Homo sapiens: one gene and its partner. The protein of the gene in region 2 interacts with the protein of the main gene of each other region in a biochemical or structural test. Each region holds a gene or a part of one and is shown on either strand. Other genes may lie near its edges.

The links. Proteins that work in one complex are often made in the same cells at the same time.
Region 1: the proteins of TRIM3 (region 2) and ESR1 form a complex in vitro, tested with the Homo sapiens proteins (one study listed by BioGRID).

What each region holds. Positions count from the first base shown.
Region 1 is NC_000006.12:151,814,182-151,817,681, reverse strand, and holds part of ESR1 (estrogen receptor), read right to left. Parts: intron 1-3,500.
Region 2 is NC_000011.10:6,463,942-6,467,441, forward strand, and holds part of TRIM3 (tripartite motif-containing protein 3), read right to left. Parts: intron 1,792-3,500; coding exon of another isoform or gene 1,755-1,791; coding exon 1,624-1,754; intron 1-1,623.

The DNA.
Region 1 (3,500 bases), on a different chromosome or scaffold from region 2:
CATATCTGGTATCAAAAATCTGCATCTTCATACCCTTCAATCTACCTTCTTTGTATTTATTCCATATCAAATGCAACGGCCAGTCTTGAAACTTATTTTGGAAAGCTGAGGAGTAGAATTGAAAGCTACTGTGATCTTTCTCCCCAGCACTCCTTTTACCCTCTGCTTCTGAAATCCAAGAGGCCCAAGGAAATGAAGACTTGGAAATCTAGCAGACCTGGGTTTGAATAGTGCTCCTCATGGTTAGAACAACAGCAAAACCTTGAGGCACATCACTAGTCTCACTTCCCTCCATGTCTCCATCCTGAAGACTTGGAAATATCCTCCATCTAAAGTCATAGGAAGAGTAAATGAGCTTTAACTGTAAATCAGTGAGAAAAGCCCCAAAATTTGTTTTGTTTGTTGTTTTTCTTAACTACTGATTCAAGCTTCGACCCAGAGCAATTGTCAGAACTGCTGAAATACAACCTGGATCTCAGTAGTTTTTTAATCATCTGGGTGATTCTGAAATAATCCTTGATTTGGATATTCCAACCAACGTGAAAAAGACGTCCTTGTAGATGCTCCCTAAGTATGAGCTTCCAACTCCTTCTTTCTCACAGTTCCCATTTTTCCAAATTACAGAAAAATTCCTTCCTTGCCCTCTGTACATCATAGCTTCTCCATAAGCTGCTTACCTCAGCTTCAATTAATTCCCTCTCTGGGATTGCTTCAGTCCACAATACTTAATGCCCCTCACTCTTTTTATTGATTGATTAATTTTTACTGATTTGGAGTGCCTTTGTTTTTGTTTTTGTTTTTTTGTAGAGACAGGGTCTCACTGTGTTGCCCAGGCTGGTCTGGAACTCCTGGACTCAAGCAATCCTCCCTTCAGTTCCTCAAAGTGCTGGGATGACAGGCATGAGCAGCTGCACGCAGCCAAATTTGAAGTTTTTTTTACAGTTGTTTTGTTTTGTTTTTGTAGCACAGTACCTGGCATGTAATAAGCACTTCAAGAAATACTAGCTTCCTGCTTCCTTTTGGTTGCAGAAGTTTAACTTCTAATCACAATAGGGTATTAAAGTTAGTCACTTGAAGGCAAAATAAACAAATATAGGGACATTCCAGACCCGTAGAGAATTCCCATACTCACCTTCTTCAGGGTATAGTACTCAATTCCCTTCCGAAGTAGTAATAAAAAATAATGACTTGTTATGTGCCAGGAATGTTATAAGCCCTAGACATCTATGAATTTGTTTAATCCTCACATCATCCAAACGATGTAGCTTTTACAGATTAGGAAACTGAGGCACACAGTTAAGCAATTTGCCAGTGATGACAACTACACAGGAGTCACGCCAGAATAGAAATATAGCTGCTGGCTCCCAGACCTGTGCTTTCATCACTCTATTATACAGAATCGATTCTCATTATTCATGGTACTCATGTTCTATAAAGTCACCTCAAACACTGAATTAGCAAATACTGAACCATTGCATTGAGGGGAAAATAGGGTAGGTTCCTGGGAGCCTTTGGTCACAGCATTTTTGCCAACTCATTAATACATAACCTTGTTTTATATGTTTTTCTGTTCAAAAACACTGTATTTAATATATCCTGTTGATTCACCATCATTGAACTCATGGCCAACAGCATTGTAACTCATGCCTGAATAAAGCTTATCAAACACGTATTTTCTCTTAAGACACGTCAGAGCCTTGTCTTAGAATCCCTAGACAGTACTTCAGGACCATGCTTAGGGGCCATTTTAAACAGCAAAATCATCAACAGGGATTATGAAAATGCAAAAATCATAACACGAAGTAGATAGCAAGAGGGACACTTGTTTATAGTCTGAGGGCTGCAAGGAGAAGTGAGCCTTGCTCAGCCTCAGCTGGGAACATATACGTCATATAACTCAAATTTTTTTGCCATTCCACACGTCTGCAAAGGACTGAGAAAGCACCGTGAGTGTTGACTCGAAGGTTACAAATAAACGTCAGTAAGTCAGCGAATTTGCAAATACAGAATCCATGAATAATGAGGGCCGACTGTACTTGGAATGCTGTGTGGAGTCCTTTTTCTACTTTTGTTCCTGAGAAAGAGAGATTCACAAACTTCCCACATTCTTCCAGTGGCATCTAAGGATCCCTTCCTAAATGGCCTTTCTCCCAGCCAATAGACTGAAGCAAACCATGTCCCTGATGCTTCCTGCCCACCACCATCCATTCTTTCAACCAACAGCTTCTCCGGGCTTTCACGTGCCATGCACTTTGCTAAGAGCTTGAGGGAAATACAGCAATGAAGAAGAGATGATTTCTGTTTGGACCAGTGCTCAGGGATTCCTCCTATTAGAAATCAAAGAGGCTTCCAAAAGCCCTACAATTTTTTCCCTGTAACTAAAGAAAATAGCTTCTCAATGTAACTAAATTTTATCTCATACGCAAATTGGAATGTATACCCTTTCACTCTGAATTGCTTGAAATATTCCAGGAGAAATAAATACAACTCTGTGTAAGGTCTTCTAAAAAAGCAGAAGTCAAAGTCACCAGAAAGAACCTTTAAAATCAACTATGTTTCTGACAATGTTGCTTTCGAAACTGTTACCCCACTCCCGCAAAATCACCATTGAAAAATACCTTTGTGGTGTAATTAAGATTAATCATGAATGCACTGAATGTTCAGAAATGAGTGTTTTTGTTTTTGTTGATTAAGTGGGAAGTTACAGTTAGCAAAAATGCCTTGTACACGTTCACATGGATCTAAAACTCCTGAAACCAAGTTTACTGGGAGACAACAGTCAAGACTACACTGTTAGTTTACACATGCAGGAGATTCTGGTATTAGAATCTCACCTATTCATGCTATAAGACTTCCCAGCTGCTAGGTGCAATGCTGTTGCATGAACTGCTGGGAAAACAAAACCACACTTTATATAGTCTAAGCCCTCAATGAATGACTCAATTTGGAATAAGGTAGCCAAATGAATGAATGAACAAACTTTCAAAGAAATTCTACTAATTGAAAATTTCTTCTTTATTTTGTTGAAGTTTCTATCCTCAGAGACAAGAAAAACATCACTTTTTGAAACTTTTAATCTAGTTAATACCACTCTGAGTTATTACGGTATATTCTTATACTGGCTGAGGTAGGAACTCTGTTTAGCCCTGTTCCAAATTTCATTAAAATAACAGATGAGACAGGTCAATAAAGAAATAAACCAGAAAAGGTGAAAGAAAAATATCTGAGAATACACAGATGGAACAACTAAAACAGAAAAGAAAAAAGAAAGCTTAATAGGGTAAAAGAGGCCAAAAACTCTTTAAAGGGAGTTTAAACTTCTATGTATTAGAAAATAAAGCAAATGAAACAAGAAAATATGAGAATGGACTCAAAATTCTAAAAGACCTACAGAAGAAAGAGGAAGTACGCCAATGTGAAGATGACTATTTCTAACATCATTTAATTGCAGGAAACTAAAAGAGAACATTGTCTTTTGCTTTCAGGGCCATAAAAGAAAT
Region 2 (3,500 bases):
CAGGGCTGGCAGGGAAGCAGTATCTCTGGTGCAGAGCCAGGTTTCCGTTGGGGCAGAAGGCAGAGGAAAAGTGCGGATAGAGGCAGTGGTGGTGAGAAGACCTAGGGACCAGGCCACCCAAGACAGAACAATGAGAGATAAGGGCCCAAGAGAATATTGTCAAAATACAGATGTGATCACATATAAAACCCTGCAAAGGCTTCATGTGGCTCTCAGGGTAAAGGTGAAATTCCCTAACAGGTCTACAAAGCCCTAGGTGGTCTGGCCTCCACCTACCTCTCCAGCTTCATCCCATAATACTCTCAGTCACACTCACTCTGCTCTAGCCCTACCAGGCTTCCTCCAGGCCTCTTACCTGACATATTTTCTCATGTCACATGAGCTTTTCCAATGGTCTTTCTTCTGTGCAGAATGCTCTTCCAACCCCCTTTACCTAGTTAACTCCTATTCATCCTCTGAATTGCTCCTCAGGGAAACCTTCCCTGATTCTCCAAACTATAACAGATTCCATATGCCAATCTCTCATAGCTCAGCACTTTATTTGCAGCACTTACTAAAAGTTATATTTATCTATAATCTGGCTATATGATTATTTGATGACTATCTTTCTCTTTCACTATACTGTTAGCTCTTTAAGAGTAAGCATTGTAAGTGATGGATACCTTAAATACCCTACTTGATTGTTACCCATTCTATGCTTGTGTAACAATGTATCACATGTTCCCCATAAATATGTAAACTATTGTGTATCAGTTTTTAAAAAGAGTAAGCACGGTAGCTCACGCCTGTAATCCCAGCACTTTGGGAGGCCGAGGTAGGCGGATTGCCTGAGTTCAGGAGTTCAAGAACAGCCTGAGCAACACGGTGAAACCCCATCTGTAATAAAATACAAAAAGTTAGCTGGGCGTGGCGGCGTGCGCCTGTAGTCCCAGCTACTCCGGAGGCTGAGGCAGGAGAATTGGTTGAACCTGGGAGGCAGAGGTTGCAGTGAGCCGAGATCGTGCCACTACACTCCACCTTGGGCAACAGAGCGAGACTCCATCTCAAAAAAAAAAAAAAAAAAAAAAAAAGAGTAAGGATCTTATCTGTTTTTGCTCATCACTGCATACCCAATGCCTAGAACAGGGTCTGGCACATAGTAGTTGCTCAATAAATGAATATTTGTTAAATGAATAAGTGATCCATAGAAGCCTAGAGGCTGGGACAGGTTGCCTTTCACTCAGTACCTGAGGACAACAAGGACAAGCAGGGAAGGACAGACCTAACTTCAAATATCCTCCAACTAGTCATAAATTGCTGATGCCAAAGCTGGTTGAGTCTGAGCACTGTTTGATTTCTTAGGTGGTGTCAAAAGCTGCCTTGAGGTTTGGGAAAGGACAGAGAAGGCCCTATTCTTGACAGGAACCATGGCCCAGTGTTATGGTTCTTATGGTTCTCTCACAGGTTCTTGCCCTCAAAACCTCATTTCCTGCAGGTTGGGGTTCACCTGCTCTCCTCCCAGGTAAGCATGTTGCCTCACCTACTACAGGTTTACACATGCTCCCTCACCCTCCCCACAGGGGAGGAGGATCCTCATCCTCCCCACAGGGTCCTCATCCCTCCCCAGTACACACATCCCCTCACCTCTCACAGAAGGTGTGCAGGCAAGGAAGAACCTTGGGGCACTGGTACCGATCCAGGCAGATGCTGCATACCAGGAACTGCTTGTCCATTGGCTGGACCTCTGGGCCAGGGCTGTCCTCCCTCTTTGCCATGGCGCCCACAGATGGCTCCCGCCACTCACACCAGCCTCTGTATGGAGAGATGGTCAGCACCAGGGAGTCCAGAACTTCTTCTCCCCACCCAATCCCCGCCACTCAAATCCCCTGCAGAGAACTTGCCCCCACCTCTTCCCTGCTAGGGGCAAGACAGGGCAGTGACTGGAAGGATCAGGGTGATGTGACCTCTGAGCCTGGTGTTCTGTTTAAGAGCACAGACGTAGGATTAGATTGGGTTTCAAACCTGGCTCAGTCTCTCACCAGCTATGTGAGCTTGGACAATCCATGTAACTTCTCTGAGCCTCAGTCTCTTAATTTGTAATTACAGGAATAATAATTTGAGAGTGTGACATAGTGCCTGTTGAGTGCATGGTACAGAGATGTCCATTTTCACTGACATACCTACCCTTCATCTCCTCTACCTCCCCCAAATCCTCCTCCAAGAGACCTGAATGGAGTGTCTCTCCTCTAACTACCTGCAGCTCTTCCATTTATACCCTGACCCACCTCTTAGCACAACTGCCTGAAACTGCACTCTTTTTCACACCCAGTTAGTATCAAGGTCGGGATTGCTTCCTGAATATCTTAAACCCTTCTCTCCAATCCCACAGTTACTACCCCTAATTCAGGCAACCATCTGTTCTCTCCTGGAATACAGCAATAGCCTCTTAACTGGTGTTCTTGTCTCCTCACTGACACCTTTTCATTTATCTTCCTTGAAGCCAGAATGAATTTTCTAAAACACAGATTTGATCTTGTCAGTACTCTGTTTAAATTCCTTCAAATGTTATCCATTGTCCAAAGTCCTTATATTGACCAGTGAGGCTTAACTTTGCCCCATACCTTTTCTACAACCTCATGTCTCATAAGTCTATGATCAATCATTCCTGCTGGGTTTTTTTTTTTTTTTTCCAGTTCCTGGAAAATTCCTTGTTCTCTTTTGCTTCTGGGAGATCAGGCATTCGTTCTCTCTGTCCTGGGATCCTTTTCCTGGCCCCTTTTCCTGGCTGATGTGACACCTACTCATCTTTCAGGTCCCCATATAAATGTCACCTCCTTTAGAAGACCTTCCATGACTACCCAGAGTCTGGCTTGGGTGCTCTACCTCTGTGTCCCTCAGCACCCTGTATTTACTCCATCCTAACTCTTATAAGCTATGCTGTAATGTTCTTGTTACTTCTCTGCTTTCTCCACTCCATGCAGTGTTATTGAGGATAGGCATTTTATTTATTTATTTATATTTTATTTTATGTTTTCATTCTTAGCACTTAGCACAGAGCCTGACATAAAGATTGATCTATATTTACTGAATTGATTTCAGGAATTCAATAAATATTTACTGCCTACTTTGTACAGGTGTTAGGAATGGAATGATAAAACAGACAGGGTCACTGTCCCTGTGGTGGGGAGGTGGTGGCAGATATTTTAAAAGTAAATAATAGTGGCAGGGAAGTGATATAAAGAAAAAAGGGATGCTGTGAGAAAGAACACTTTTGATTGAGTCATCAGGGAAGGCTCTCCAAGGAGGTAACTTTTAAGCAGAATTCTGGGTGGATGGGAGAAAAATGGTATGGGTGAGGGTGAGAAACAACAGGGAGTCAGGAAGGGAAATCATTCTAGGCTGAAGAAACAGCATGATAAAGGTTCTTAGGCAGAAGGCTCATGGAGAACCTGAAAGGACTGTGTGGTTGGAGCCAAGTCAATAAAAGGAAGAGGTGAGTTTGGGAAGATAGGTAGAGATGA